4 linked regions of the Homo sapiens genome follow. The protein of the gene in region 2 interacts with the protein of the main gene of each other region in a pairwise test. Each region holds a gene or a part of one and is shown on either strand. Other genes may lie near its edges.

Evidence for each region.
Region 1: the proteins of MAP4K2 (region 2) and PRDX4 interact in a two-hybrid assay, tested with the Homo sapiens proteins (one large-scale study listed by BioGRID and IntAct).
Region 3: the proteins of MAP4K2 (region 2) and SERPINA4 interact in a two-hybrid assay, tested with the Homo sapiens proteins (one large-scale study listed by BioGRID and IntAct).
Region 4: the proteins of MAP4K2 (region 2) and DEFB1 interact in a two-hybrid assay, tested with the Homo sapiens proteins (one large-scale study listed by BioGRID and IntAct).

The regions. Positions count from the first base shown.
Region 1 is NC_000023.11:23,673,993-23,677,492, reverse strand, and holds part of PRDX4 (peroxiredoxin-4 precursor), read right to left. Parts: intron 2,504-3,500; coding exon 2,387-2,503; intron 1-2,386. UniProt on the Homo sapiens protein: Thiol-specific peroxidase that catalyzes the reduction of hydrogen peroxide and organic hydroperoxides to water and alcohols, respectively.
Region 2 is NC_000011.10:64,785,403-64,790,655, forward strand, and holds part of MAP4K2 (mitogen-activated protein kinase kinase kinase kinase 2), read right to left. Parts: intron 5,061-5,253; coding exon 4,992-5,060; intron 4,873-4,991; coding exon 4,786-4,872; intron 4,558-4,785; coding exon 4,487-4,557; intron 4,384-4,486; coding exon 4,328-4,383; intron 4,223-4,327; coding exon 4,135-4,222; 3' UTR 1-4,134. UniProt on the Homo sapiens protein: Serine/threonine-protein kinase which acts as an essential component of the MAP kinase signal transduction pathway.
Region 3 is NC_000014.9:94,564,442-94,567,423, forward strand, and holds part of SERPINA4 (kallistatin isoform 2 precursor), read left to right. Parts: intron 1-2,528; coding exon 2,529-2,802; intron 2,803-2,982. UniProt on the Homo sapiens protein: Inhibits human amidolytic and kininogenase activities of tissue kallikrein.
Region 4 is NC_000008.11:6,875,137-6,879,182, forward strand, and holds the start of DEFB1 (beta-defensin 1 preproprotein), read right to left. Parts: upstream 2,801-4,046; 5' UTR 2,722-2,800; coding exon 2,661-2,721; intron 1-2,660. UniProt on the Homo sapiens protein: Has bactericidal activity. May act as a ligand for C-C chemokine receptor CCR6. Positively regulates the sperm motility and bactericidal activity in a CCR6-dependent manner.

The sequences.
Region 1 (3,500 bases), on a different chromosome or scaffold from region 2:
AGGATTTTTTCCGATTTTGGTATATCTGCATACTTACTGGTTGAACATCCCTAATCTGAACTCTGAAATGCTTCACTAAGCATTTCCTTTGAGCATCATGTCAGCACTCAAATTTTGAATTTTGGAACACTGTGGATTTCAGGTTAGGGACGCTCAATCTGTATTCTGTAACTTGAAACCAGGAGACATGGGCTGATGCTCTAACAGGAGGGTACTGACACAGCAGATAGAAAACAAAACGACATTGCTCTAGATATCTGGAGCCCCAGTTCTGACACCCAAGTAGAAATTTCTGGTTGATGTGAACCCTATCAGGCTGAGAATGTATCCCCAAATTTCCTTGGGAAAGCAATCCCAAATTATTTGGGATGCCATAACTTTTTCCTTAGTGGATATGCATTTTAATCCTCGGAAGATTTATAATTACTACAGAAGTGATGAAGCACAGCCCGGGCAACATGGCAAGACTCCATCTCTACAAAAATAAAAATTAAAATAGGTATGGTGGTGCAAGCTTGCAGTCCCAACTATTTGGGGAGGTAGAAGGATTGTTGGAGCCCAGGAGTTCAAGGCTGCAGGGAGCTATGATTGATTGTGCCACTGCACTCCAGCCTGGGCAACATAGTAAGACCCTGTCTTTCTTTTTTTAAAGGAAATGATGAAGCAAATTAAGCCTATATTTTAATTTTTTTTTTTTTTTTGAGACAGGATCTCACTCTATTGCCCAGGCTGAAGTGCAGTGGTATGATCTTGGCTCACTACAGCCTCGACCACCTAGGCTCAGGTCATCCTTCCATCTCAGGCTCCCGAGTAGCTGGGACCACAGGCATGCACCACCAGACCTGGCTAATTTTTTTTATTTTTTGTATAGATGGGGTCTCACTATGTTGCCCAGGCTGGTCTTGAACTCCTGGGTTGAAATGATTCTCCTGCTTTGACCTCCCAAAGTGCTGGGATTATAGGCGTGAGCCACCATGCCAGGCTATTTTAATATTTTTACATTAAGAAATAATCAGTACATATTTATATGTTAAGTTATTTATAATGTTTAAGAGAATTTGGCATATTAGAACTACTTAAGTATTTGGGAAGGTTTGTCTGAAAATTGAGATACTTAAGGAATTCAAATATATTAAATATATAACTGCATTTAAAAATACTTATGGGAATTAATTTCTTAGGGAAATGTAATTAATTAAATTGTAGCTCACCAAGCAATGAAAATTTGTTATACACACACAGATTATAAATGAGAAAAGCTTGTGTTTCAAATTTGTAACTTTAATAAATTGAATATTATGTTTTAAAACCAATAGTTCTGAATCTTTTTTTTTTTTTTTTTTTTTTTTTTTTTTTGAGATGGAGTTTCACTCTCATTGCCCAGTTGCCCAGGCTGGAGTGCAATGGCGTGACCTCGGCTCACTGCAACCTCCACCTCCTGGGTTCAAGTGATTCTCCTGCCTCAGCCTCCTGAGTTGCTGGGATTACAGGCACCTGCTACCACGCCTGGCTAATTTTGTATTTTTAGTAGAGACGGGGTTTCTCCATGTTGGTCAGGCTGGTCTCGAACTCCCGACCTCAGGTGATCTGCCTGCCTCGGCCTCCCAAAGTGCTGGGATTAGAGGCATGAGCCACTGTGCCCAGCCCAATTCTGAATGGTCTTTATTGTGCACAAAGTTTTCTGCACAAGACTGTGGACACTATAAAAACTCATATTAACATGTAAATTTCCAATTTTGAGACATGTTGCCCAACTGCTCTCCAGAAATGCTAAACAGCTGTGTGTGAGTGCCGTTTCTTCAATTTTTGTCCACAGTGGATACATTTTTTCAATCTTTTAAATCTTGGCCAACCAGACAGGGAAAATTGGCATCTCGTCATTTTAATTTGCAATTCTTTATAACGAATTTAGGTAAAACATCTTTTTATGATTAATGAATTTTTAAACATTTTTTAAAATTCATTTTTAAAAAGTATTGTTTCTTCAAAATTGTAAAAGCTGAGTTTGACTATATAACTGTGTAACAGAGAAATGGCATATTTTAAAGATTTTTTTCCTCCAGATTATGGTAACCCAATTTATCATAAGCATATAATTCAGTGGTTTTCGCTATAGAAATCACATCTATTGCATTTAACTTTTCCCCTTATTTTGAAATGTCCTATAAAATCCTTAAGCATTTTTATTATAGCAGCTGATTATATTACTCTTCTCTCTTTTTTTAACCTGGAAAATGTGTAGTTACATGTATTACTCTTAGATAAAGCTATTCCTGAATTGTCTGATAAATGACTATATTCTTATATCATATCAAGAGTTATCTGTCCATGCTTTAAGAGTAAATCCATTCTTTTTTTTCTACGAATATAAGTGTAAGATACTGACCAGGCCAAATGGGTAAACTGTGAATCAACAGAGCATGCTACCACTTCAGTATTTATAGATCTGAATTCTTCAAGTCTGTCGCCAAAAGCGATAATTTCAGTTGGACACACAAATGTGCTGAAAGGTAAAAAAAAAAAAATATTCAGTATTCTCCAAATAAGCATATACCTAAACTTTCAAATGACAATTTTTACAAATACCTTTAATAATAAAAATGCACATTAAGAACAATTTTATATTTGAACCTTTTCAAAATGGAGTAGTCTAAAAGACTGTCATTTAATCAAATATTTAAGACAGAAACATATTACAGAGTTCCCAACTACATCTCAATAAACTTTCTTATTACAACTTAATAGATCAGTAGTCAACCAATGTTCCCTTCTCCCTTATAGCAATAGCCACCCCTCATTTTATTACTTTTATTTAATAATACCTTTTATTTATATAGTATTTTATAGCTTTCAAAGGATCTATACAAATTTTATGTCATTTCACTATTTTTTTTTTAATATTCCTATACCAACCCTATGAATTAGATGCATCTATGTGTATTTTGGAGAGGAGGCAATGTTTTCCAGTACCCCCACCCCTCCTTTCTTGATAAGGTCCTCTTCCACCTTGTCTACCAGTCCTGTGCAGCCAGGGATTTTATACCTTAATACCCTCATGTTGTCAGGCCATGTTTACAGAATATTACTAGGGTGGCATTTTTTCAAACCGTGGTAGGGACTCCTTAAATTAACTGAGTTCTAAAAAATATTTTTAAAAAGTGAAATCGAATAGAAAACAGGAGACTCTATCATACATACTAAGGGTAAATTATGAAACACATATTTATATATACAAATATATATGTTTGTCTTCAACAGTGATGATATTCAAAATATTTAACAATCTTAACTCAAAGCTGGCTTTAGTTCTGGAGGTTTCTGAAAGGGATCAGGCAGGAGGACTAACTAGTTGGTGAGGAAAGGGAAGTGGCTATTTACCACATGATATGAGGGTTTTTCAGTATTTTAAGGAGCATGGCTGTGCTGGTGCATCCAGATGGAATGTTACCGTATATATATGTGCCTGTGTACTGGCTGACAACGAAAAATGTATTTCCTAC
Region 2 (5,253 bases):
AATACACACTAGAAGGCAGCAACTGCAAAGTGGCAATTCCAGAGTTCTGTGCAGGACGCTGCAGTGATTCCGCCCCACTTGTTTTCACCATCTAGGGAAACGTCCTCTTCGTTTTTGGTCTTGTCTTTCAAGCGAGTTCTATTTTTTCGGTGATTACTTTTAAATATTTTTTAAAAATTTTTTTCCTTTTTTTTTTTTTCTTTTTGAGACAGGTTCTCACTCTGTCACCCAGGCTGGAGTGCAGTGGCAAGTTCATAGCTCACTGCAGCCTTGAACTCCTAGGCTCAAGCAATCCTCCCACCTTAGCCTCCAGAGTAGCTGGGACTGCAGGCGAGTGCCACCATGTCCAGCTAATTTGTGTATCTTTTGTAGAGACAGGGTTTTGTCATGTTGCCCAGGCTGGTCTAGAACTCCTGGGTTCAAGTGATCTGCCTGCCTCAGTTTCCCAAAGTGCTGGGATTACAGACATGAACCACCATGCCCAAACTAAAATTTTATGACATAATATTTGATACATACAAAAGGATGTGTGGCACCTTATGTGAGTTAGGAACTGAGTTATAACTTAAATACCCATGAACCTACCACCAAACCTGAGAGCTAAGATATTACCAATACCTTTAAAAATTCCTGGGCTCCTTCCTTATCCCATCCCACACTCCTCTCAGGGACGACCATCTCAGATTTTGTGCTTTTCCTTCCCATGATTTTTTAATAGGGTTGTATCTTGGGCATGTATTGCTAAACAATAGATGGTTTCATTTTGTTTTTGAGCTTTATAATATGCTATCGTACTGTGCATAAAGTGCTGTTTTAATTTACCTCTAAGAGTCATCTATGTTATTGCATTATGTCTGTTACAGTATTTCTGATCCTCCTGACAGCCCTGCAGTTGGCTTTGGATATGGTAAACCTAAGGAAAGTAAAGCTCAGCGAGCTGGGGTGGCTCACCCAGTCCAAGGGCAGATTGCAGGGACTCCTCTTCACCACATCTTGTCCATTCCCTTACTCGTGAGGGTCTCCTGAGCACTGGTAGTGAGCAGGTGCTGGACATGCCACAGGGAACACGGCAGATCCTCCGCCGTCCCGAAGCACACATCATGGTGCTCCCCTTGACTTTCACCAGGATGACTCCGGGTATGGGCCAGTTACCTGAACATCCTGGGGGGGCCCACGTCCCTTCTACTTGTCCTCAAGAATGACTTAAAGAGTCTGGTCTGACCCTCCCACAGGTTTCTGCCCATGGAGGGGCAACTGGACAGCAGCTATCACCACGGCATATGTAGCCACCGCTAACTCATTAATGCTGCTTCCAGGAACTTATCTTCTAGAAGTGCTTGAATATGTACAGAGGGGCACTAGCCTAATAATATTTATTGCAGCATTGTTTGTAATATAAAAGTAGTAAAAACAACTCAAATTTCCACCAATAGGGATCTCACTGCAGGTCATTAACATTTGTTATGGGAAACATACACAATGGAATACCACTAGCTGTAAAAAAAAAAAAATTTTTTTTTAAAGGGAGATCTTTAACGCAAAACTCTCCAGGATATATACATATCTTTTCAGGGTGCATGTGATAATTTAATACATTCATATTCTCCAGGATATATATATATTTTTTTCTCTTTTTTTTTTTTTTGAGACGGAGTCTTGCACTGTCGCCCAGGCTGGAGTGCAGTGGCATGTTCTAGGCTCACTGCAACCTCCGCCTCCCAGGTTCAAGCGATTCTCCTGCCTCAGCCTCCCGAGTAGCTGGGATTACAGGCACTCGCCACCATGCCCAGCTAATTTTTTGTATTTTTAGTAGAGACGGGGTTTCACCATGTTGGCCAGGCTGGTCTCGAACCCCTGACCTCGTGATTCGCCCGCCTCGGCCTCCCAAAGTGCTTGGATTACAGGTGTGAGCCACCACACCTGGCCCCCCAGGATATATTTTTAAAGGGCAAGGTCAGTACAGTATGTGGAATATGTTAATACGTATATAAAAAATCGCCAAGAATAAAATATACCAAATTGCTTAAATACGCAAAATACTTCTAGAAGGGTTCATAAGTAACTGAGACCAGGGTGGCTGGGGACGGGGTAAGAGGGAGACTTCATTATATCTCTGCTGTATTTAAAAAAATATGTACCATGGGCAAAGGTTACGCATTTAAAAATACATAAATAAAATTTAAAGTGTTAGTCTCTCAGTGCATATTCCCTGGTTTCTCGGCCTTTCTTTGCTCTTGGCCTGCCTTTGCTGGCAGCAAGCGTTTTATGGGAGGCCCCCACTTTGGCAGTTTACACTCTGCAGTCCAAACCCCGTTTCCAGACTGAATCTGAGGTCCGGGAAGATCCGCCACAAGGAGGCACTGTCTGCTGCTGGCCGGTTGGTGAACGGAAAGCCAGTCCTCCCCAGGGCGCCTTTGGTCAGGGCCTTTGCTGAGCAGGAGCTCACCTCCCTGTCCCCACTTACCCCACCCTGGTCCCAACATTCCTCCGAGAAATCTGGAAAATTGGAAGTTAGGAATTCACTTTGTATCCCTGTTACCACCGACCCCAATTTGGAAGGTGCCCCTCACCCTCCTTGGGGCTCACGGGAACATGGGTGTGAATGCCTGGTGTGAAGAGATGTGTTCCCTCCCCTGGGCTGGCTCCCCATTCCAGCCAAGAAACCCTCCCAGTCACTGGACAGAGTCAGAACAGTTGAAACTCTGCTGGAGGGTGGCTGAGGGGACAGTGTGACACCCTGGGAACCACTGAGCCTACTCGCATGGCTGCCATCCACCTACCACGTCACTCCGCAAGTCTTTATTGCCACCCACCAGGTGCAAAGGTCTTCCTCCAACACCTGCCTTGAATGTAGGGGTGACCATGGGGCCTTTGCTCCAGCTGTTCCCCCCACCCTGCCCCCACCTTCCCAGCCCCCCAGCTGTGGGCCCTCAAGGCAGTTCCCATCCTGCCTCCTGGGCTGCAGCTGCCCAAAGGCTCCAGTCAAGAGCGGCTGATCAGTGCCTGGGGCAAAAGAGGATGCCCAGCCCTGGGGGCCCTGGCATTCAGAGCTGAGCAGACAGACCCTTGGAGAATGACAGCGTAAGCACAAGCTACAGGAGAATGGCCATGCCCTCAAGATGCAGGCTCCAGCAAGGAGGACGCCCTCCCTGGGGGCTGGTCTGTTTCTGGTAGTGACCCCAGGGCCTGGCACTGAGGCAGCCCTTGGGAGTCTGGTAGACGGACACAGGCTAGCCTTCCCATCCAATCTGATGATCGTGCTGTCATCTGATGTTCCTGGTCTAACACCTAGGCAGTAGGTGGAGGCAGGGGATACAGGTCACACAGGCTACCTCCATGGGCAGCAGCCTCCATGGGAATGGAGGGAACAGCCCTCTGGGGGCTCCTCCTGGGCCCTTCCAGGGGTCACCCAGTGAGATCCTACGTGGGGCAAGGGTGCCCTGGATGAGAGTCCCTTTGTTGAGGTCCCCCCATCTGCATGAGTCCTTGGGGTGCTAAACTACAGCAGAGCCCTCAAACTGCAAAGCTGAGGGTCAGTTCTGAGCAAGGATGCAGGGGAAGGCACAGTGCCCCTAGAAGGCTGCTGGGGGCCATGGCCTCCTGTCACCTCTACCTGGCTTCTCCAAAACCCTGGGGGCCCTGCCCTTCTGTGGTGCCCACAGAAACGTGTGTTGGAGGGAAGGAGGCGGGAGATGAGGTGGGTTCACTCCCCCTACCCAGAGGGACCAGAGGACTAAAACAAACCAGCTTTAATACCAATATAGTTCTCTCTTAAATACCGTGTTTCCCAGGACAAATGCAGGGGCAGGCTCTTGGCAGAAAGAGTAGAAAGGAAATGTGGAACAAAATGGAATGGATGGCCCAGGCCCAGGGTCCCTGCCTTGGGCACTAGGGACTGGGCTGCCTCGGGGATGGGGGAGTGACAGCAGCTCCCCCTGGTCCAGTTATTGCAGAGGCGTCGGGGGCTCCCCTCCCTCCCCAGGCCTGAAACATTTCTCAGGATTACTTCTGACCTTCAGCCCCAGCAGGGCCAGGGCCTGGGCTCCTCTGGTCTAGGATGGGCCCCTTTGCCCAAAAGGGCCTGCAGCTAAGGCGTGGGGTGGGGCGGGGAGCCCCTGGACAGGCCCGCTGCTCTTAGTAGGTGCTCTGGTGGCCCGTGAGGATGTAGAGGTTGCTGTGCGCCTCTGGGTTGTCAGTGGGAATGCTCTCCAGGATGATGTCTCTGGAGGAGAGAGGAGTAGGGGGCAGGGCGGGAGACACTTGGTACATCAGCCCCTTCTCTGGCCTCAGGGGCATCTGAAGGGGAGGCTAGGGTACCACCGCCTACCTGTGGGCCCCAAGCACTCGGAAGATCCTTGTTTCATCTGTGATCTCCTGGGTCACCTGGGAAGACAGGTGGGAAGCACTGAGGCCACTCCAGTAGGTCCTTTCCAAAGAGGTAGGGACCACAAGGCAGGGGACAGCAAGGTCCCTGGGCCCCACTCACCTCATTGGTATCCAGGCTTCGGCCTTGCATCCCATGGCTCCAGAAGGCCAGCACACTGTCCTGCAGGCACACTATGGGGGCCAGGCCACCATCAGCCCTGCACCCATCTTGGCACCCCCTCAGCCACGCCTGAGCCTGGGTCTGGGCCACAGGGGTCCTCACTGACCTCAGGTGACCAGGATGGCTCAGGAGAGGGGCTAGGGGATCTGCCTCCTCATCCTACCGCCAGCCCCAGGCCCCTGAGCAACAACGTGCTCCAGGCCAGGGAAAGGCCTGCACCCCACCTCTGGCTCACTCACCCACAGTCTCGATGGGGAAATCAAAGGTCAGCTCAGGTGCCAGTGTGGCCGTGGGCTCGCCCTGCATGTTGACAATCCTCACACAGCCTGCACAGGGAAGGAATTGGTGAGTGGGGACGGGGAGGCTCCCTTCTGGGAAGGCAGACCCACGTGGTCGCCTTACCTCCATAGTCCCCTGCCCTAAGCCCTGCCCCCAGGGCACTCACGTTCAAAGCTGACTAGGATTGTGTCCCTGTCCACCTGGATCACCTGCTGGGCCGAGCCTGGGATCCCCTCTGCAGGCAGAGAAGAGAGACATGGCCTGGCTGAGCCACCAGTCCCCCAACCCCAAGAGGATACGGGGGCCAGGCTACAGACAGCCCTTGGCCATGAGGGCACGTCAGCCTCACAACAGCCCTGTGGGGCTGGGAAACCTCATCTCCCTCCAGGGCTGGGAACTGAGGCTCTGAGAGGATGAGTGACCCGTCC
Region 3 (2,982 bases), on a different chromosome or scaffold from region 2:
ACAGGTCAGCTTGTTTGCTCAAAGCAGGGATAAGACAAGTCTCTAATTCAAAGGTTGGCTTTGAGGATCAAATGATTAACCCATGTATATACTCCTTAGAAAAGGGTCTAAAGAGATGGGCAAACTACAGCCCATGGGCCAAATGTGTTCAGCCACTGGTTTTGTAAATAAAGTTTTATTGGCACACAGCCAGGCCCATTCATTTATGTATTGTCTGTGGCTGACTTCATGCTACAATGGCAGGTTGATTCATTACTGCAGAGATTGAATGATCTGCAATGCCTAAAATAGTTAATATCTCTATAAACCTTTTGGTTTGTTGACCCCTGACCATTTTATGTACTCAATAAATAGCAACTATAATTCATCTAATGATAACAATGCTCATTTTGAAGCTTTAAAAATATGTAAAAGCATAAAGGAGAAAGTAGACATAATCTCTAGTCCTACCACTCAGAGGCAACAAATGTTAATGTTTTAGCATCTTTTCTTCACCTTCCATTCACACACATATATGTCCACACAGTTGATTTTGCAGTGTGCAAACAACTTTGTACGGTGTGTATTAGCCAGGGTTTCATCAGAGAAGGAGAGCCACCTCAAGTCAATGGTAAGGAGATCATTATAGGAATTAGGCCCCACACAATTGCGACTGGGAAAGTGAAGGTCTAGAGGAAAGAAGAGTTGGAAGGACAGAGAGAAAGTTGCCAATGTAAGCGGACAAGTCAGAGCTTAGAGGGGAATCTATATGCCAGGCTCAACCAGCCATCAGAGTGCTGCCATGGAGGGGAGCATCACTGCATAGTTTCTGTGGTAGCCTGGGGCTGCTGTTGTTTAGTGGGGTTAGACTTGGGAAATGAGCTTGGAGACAAGCAGGGCAAACTGGAGCACACAGAGCACTGCTGAGTCTGACCATCATCATATCTGACTACCAGGGCCTTCAGAGGGCAATCTACTTCGAAATCTCACAGTTCTAACCAGCTTGAACCCAAAATCTACAGGGAACAAAATTCTAGGGAGCAACTCCCAGCCTAATGATTCAGCCAAATTAGTCATCCCATGTAATTTGCATGTGGAATTTTCATGAACCATTGAAAAGTTTTTTTAAAAAAGCTTTGTTTTGAGGCTGGGCATAGTGGCTCACACCTGTAATTCCAGCACTTTGGGAGGCCAAGGCAGGTGGATATTGAAATCAGAAGTTCAAGACCAGCCCGGCCAACATGGCAAAACCCTGTCTCTACTAAAAATACAAAAAAAAAAAAAAAAATTAGCCAGGCTTCATGGCACATGCCTGTAATCCCAGCCACTTGGGAGGCTGAGGCAGGAGAATCGCTTGAACCCAGGAAGTGGAGGTTGCTGAGATTTTGCCACCACACTCTGGTCTGGGTGACAGAATGAGACTCTATCTCCAAAAAAAAGTTTTGCTTTGAAATAACAAAACTTTTAAACTTTAAAAAAAAAATTAACTAAGGAAGGAAGAGAAACAGTAGTATGGGTTTCACTGTCAGGAAGACATTGGTTAGAATCCCAGATCCCTTGCTATTCCCTGGACTAAAATTCCTGGCATGGAGGCCTTAGTCCATTCACCCTACCTGCCACCACCTCACTGCACATCGCCTCCTGTATTTGCTTCCCTCCTCACACTGCAGCGATTCCATGGCCATCATTGTGGTCACTTCCTTGCAAACACTCTGAACTCTTAACTTCCTTGGTTTTCCCTCCCTCTATCATACTTACCCTCCAAAGCTGCAAACCTGCTTAAACCTAAAGGTCTAACTAGTCTACATCTGCACCCAGCAGCTGAATGTGGTTGAAGAAAAACATCCAACGGGGCTGATGGTCTCACTTGATATTTGTGAATGCAAATTTTCATTGATATCTCTACACTGTCCAGCAATCCTACCTACATATCTCCACTCTCCAAAACAACTATAATAACAGATTCGTCCTTCTCAAATGTCCTCCCCACTCATGACTTTCACTTAACAATCTTGTCTCACTTTTCATTGAGAAAACAGAATCAGTTAAACAGGAAATCTCTCATCTTCTCACCTCCAAATCTACTCACCTCCAAATCTTCTCACCTCCAAATCTACTCGCCTCCCTGCATTTGAACCCACAAGCTCAGATGCCCTCCTCTCATCATGGCAGTAGTGACCCACCTCTTATGGAAGGCTGACCCCTCTGCTCACACTCTGCCATCTCCTCTCTCCTTCTCAAGGATGCTCACCTAACAATGAAACTCTCTTTCCAGCACCCCTTGTTTCTTCTCTATCAATCCTACTCACATATTAGAAAACGAACATCCTCTGCTATCTCTCATTTTAAAATTTAAATGAGGCCTAAAGGATCCATTCCCCAGGCATGTCAGGTTTTGAATGGTCAAAATGGGACATCTTGATGGGCTCATAGGGCAGGATCTGGAGCGACTGTTTCTGTAGCTCAGAACACCAGATGGCATTCCCTGGCTGGAGGACTAGCTCTGTGGCCTGCAGATGTCCTGTACCTTCTTTTCATCTTCCCTTCAGCCCTGTGGGAGAAACCATTCATTTCCTCAAGGACCACTCCCAAAGACTTCTATGTTGATGAGAACACAACAGTCCGGGTGCCCATGATGCTGCAGGACCAGGAGCATCACTGGTATCTTCATGACAGATACTTGCCCTGCTCGGTGCTACGGATGGATTACAAAGGAGACGCAACCGTGTTTTTCATTCTCCCTAACCAAGGCAAAATGAGGGAGATTGAAGAGGTTCTGACTCCAGAGATGCTAATGAGGTGGAACAACTTGTTGCGGAAGAGGTAATCAGTGTGCTATGGGGGCTGAATCTACAGTACTATCCATCAAATGTAACTTTCTAATGAAAGACAGTGCCCCAAAATAGAGAGTGAACACCAAATTATGAGAGAATTCTCACTTGCTCTGAGAACTTCCATGGGCTTCCTTTAAATGATGAACTCTCCTGTTATATTTAAAATATG
Region 4 (4,046 bases), on a different chromosome or scaffold from region 2:
AATGTAAAAAGAAAAAGGATAAGCTTTTAGAAGACAATATTGGGGACTATCTTCATGTCTTTGATGTAAAGAAAGTCTTCTTAAACAAGATAGAAAGTGCAGTAACCTTACGGAAAAAGACATGACACATTCGACTACATTGAAATCATGATAAAAGCCTCTTTTCTAGGAAAGTTTCCATTAAGAGAGTGAAAAATCAAAACACAAAGCAAGAGAAGATATTTGTGATGTATATAATTGACAAAAGGCTTGCATAGAAAATACATAAAGAACTACAAACCAATAAGAAAAGACAGATAATCCAAAAGAAAACATGGACAAAAGACAAACAGGTATTTTACAAAAAATAACCCAGTTGCCTGTAACTATGTATAAAAGGGCCCAACTTATTATTTATCAGGGAAATGCAGATTAAAACTCCAGTGAGCTATTGCTACACTCACCAGGTGGTTAAAATTTAAAAATAATTGATGTTATCAAATGTTGGCAAGGATACAGAGCAAGAGGAACTCTTATTCACTGCTTGTGGGAGTGCAAGTTGGTGTAAATAATCTTGGAAAACAGTTTGGCATTGTCCAATACAATTGAATATATGCATAGCCTATGATCCGGTGATGCAACTTTTCAGCATGTAGAAATAGAGGCATAAGGGCACCTACTGGCCAATAGAAATGTGTGCACAAACCAAGCTGTACTATTCAACCTGAATATTAATTAGTGTGGCAAAAGTGTAAAGAATATGAAAAGTTACCACCATAAAAGTCAAGTGAGTGATTATTCTTGGGGGTAGGAGGGAGTTGTGACTGGGAAGGCTCGAGAATAGCTTCTCATAATTCAATTTAGATATAATAGACTGAAAACAAAAATTCTTTATGTTAACAAAGTGCCTTTCAAACCCTTTTGAGTTTGGACTGAACCACCATCAGAAAGAAATTTCTCACTGCTACTCAGTAAAAACATATGCACACACCCCAAACTGAAATATGGGTGTAATTAAATAGCATCTACTTTTACTACATGGCATGAAGTAATATTTTCTATTCCTTTAAAAAAACATGGGCTGGGCGTGGTGGCTCATGGCTGTAATCCCAGCACTTTGGGAGGCGGAGGCAGGCGGACCATGAGGTCAGGAGTTAAAGACCAGCATGACCAGCATGGTGAAACCCCGTCTGTACTAAAAAATACAAAAATTAGCCAGGCTTGGTGGCATGCACCTGTAATCCCAGCTAACTCAGGAGGCTGAGGCAGGAGAATTGCTTGAACCCAGGAGGTGGAGGTTGCAGTGAGCTGAGATTGTGCCATTGCACTCCAGCCTGGGTGACAGAGCAAGACTCCATCTCAAAAAAACAAAACAAAACAAAACAAAAAAACACGGTAGGCTGAGTGGAGTGGCTCATGCCTATAATCCCAGAACTTTGGGAGTCTGAACTAGGAGGGTTGCTTGTGCCCAGGAGTTTGAGACCAGCCTGGTCAACACAGTAAGACCTTATCTCTACGAAAAAATAAAAATAAAAAAATTAGCCAGGTGTGGTGGTGCATGCCTGTAGTCACAGTTTCTTGGGAGGCTGAGGTGGGAGGATGGCCTGAGCTCAGGAGGCAGAGGCTGCAGTGAGGCGAGATCACACCACTGCACTTTAGCCTGGGTGACAGAGTGAGACCCTGTCTCAAAAAAAAAGCAAAGCAAAAACAAAAACCAAAAACCAAAAACCAAAAAAAAAAACAAAAAAACAAAATCCATTGTAGCAACTGGCAGCATGAAAAGTTCTGCATTTAGAATGCTTTTGTACTCAGCTTTCAGATGGAAAAACTGAGGCATAATTGGAATAAATTAAGCCTATCTGCTGGATACAGTGATGGCCTAGAGAAACTTACAATAGGATCTTACAGAGACTTTCTGAACTGGAGTGCTTGCTTTCAGGATCATCCTTCCCAGCCCCTCATTCTGCAGATGAATAAACCAAGGCTTAGCACCATGTGACTCGTGTGAACAAGGATAGGGCTGGGATAAAACATGTTCCCGATTCCTCCTGCACGTCCCACCATCATGTCAGGGTCATGGCTGCTTTGGCCCAGAGAAGCTGACATACACCTGGCTCACAGGAAGCCCCCTCCTATTGACTGGGGAGACTGCTAACCTGGAGAATGTGGATGCATTTCTCAGGAGAGGGAGAGGACCGCCTGCCTGCACAGGAGGTGAGTCCAAGGCACCGGCTGAGCTGGCCTGATGGGTGGGGCGGCAGCACCTCACCTGTACCAGGGCACCCCAGGAGGCTGCACCCAGTGACGTGGGCTGAGGATGGGGCCGGCCCCTCTCTCTGCATAGGAAGCTGGCCTCTCAGTGTGAGGAGTCGTCTTGCAGGGGAAGCAGCAATCTCATCCACATAGGATACTGTCTACATGTCCAGGACAAGGATGCAGGCAGCTGCCTGTGACAAGCGCCATGACCCTGCCAGGCTCACTCCTTGGCGGCTCACAGACCCTGAAGGCTTGGCAGGGCTTGCCTGCTGCCTTCTGCCAACTGCAGGCCACTCAACCACGGGATGCTTTCCTGCTGCTTGTTCCTCGTCCCTTGGGACACGGAGGCAGCCATCCGAGACTCACATCAGCCCCATTGTCCCCAGCCCTGGGGATGGGAAACTCTTGCAGGTACCAGAGCTTACCTGAGGCCATCTCAGACAAAAGTAAGCAGAGAGTAAACAGCAGAAGGTAGGAAGTTCTCATGGCGACTGGCAGGCAACACCCAGGATTTCAGGAACTGGGGAGACGCTGGCTCCTTTGGAGGCTGAGCTGACAGAGGCTTCCAGAGGCTGGAGCGTCACTGTATTTATAAGACTGGTGGATTGCACAACCTCGTCGACGGAACTGAAGGGAGGTGCCACAGTCAAGGGTGAACTTCTAATCGCTAACCCCTGGTGTCATTTGCCCTGAGCAGTCAGCAGTCACATGGCACATTGTCTCCATCTGGCTGCCGCTGGATTTAGCTTTCAGCCTGGAGCCCTGGTGCCAGCTCCTCCTGTTTGGTTTTCTAGGTTAGGCAGTTCTGATGGGGTTTCTGGAACAGGCAGTTCACACTGGAGTCCCTCCTTCTGGATCACATGGAGGAGAGCCACAGGGAAGCTCTGAGCAGGGGGCCGCTCGGCTCTAAGCTGGTGTTGGCCTCTTTAGTTTGATTGTCTTCCTGCAAGACAAACTCAAACTTCACCCTCTTCCCTTGCAGAAGGAGAGCTGGTTGTAATGAAGTTTCTTCCTCTGGCCAAGGCTACCTTCTCATCTCTCCCCTTATGCAGAACACTCTCCTCGATGGACCAACTTTTCTCTTTTCCCACTAGACGTGTTCCTGGGACGTTTCCAAAGGGCACTCCTCAGAAAGTGAGCCCCCAGTGTGGCCCTTGGAGGGTGAGGGTCTGGGCCAGCCTGGGCCCACCCTGCAGAGCTACAACTGCCAGATTGGGGTGCTGTTAGCGACTCTCCAAGTATCCCTCAGGTTTTCCTTGATTCTAAAGATTTAAGAAACATTTTATTTATTACTGATTTTCATTGTAATTCTGTGAGCAGCTTTCCTGATGTCTCAGTGGCTTATTTGCAAGCAGCAGACGCTGGCTCTCGCTGACCAAGGAAGGGAAGAGTTTATTCGGAGGATATCAGGGTTGGTGGGGGGTGGTGGCATTGCTGGAGAACCCAGCTTGAGGCTCAGTTTCCAGGAATGACATCCACCCTACACTGTCACGGTGGTCCAATGAGAACCCCATACTGCAGCCACATGGCATGAGACACCCAGAGTGGAGTGACCCTCAGCCACTCTACCGCTGGCAGAATGCCATTCTGCACCCAAACATGAACCTGCCGTATACTCCCACTTCAACCCTGCCAGAGAAAGACAGAGAGAGATCCAGAAAGATGGACAAACAAAAACAGAGACAGAGGAAGAGACAGAGACATGCAGAGAGACAGTAGAGAGACACAGAGAAACAGAGAGATAGAAACAGACAGAGAGAGATGGAAATAGAGAGAGAGAGAGAGATAGAGAGAAATAGATTCAGAGAGAC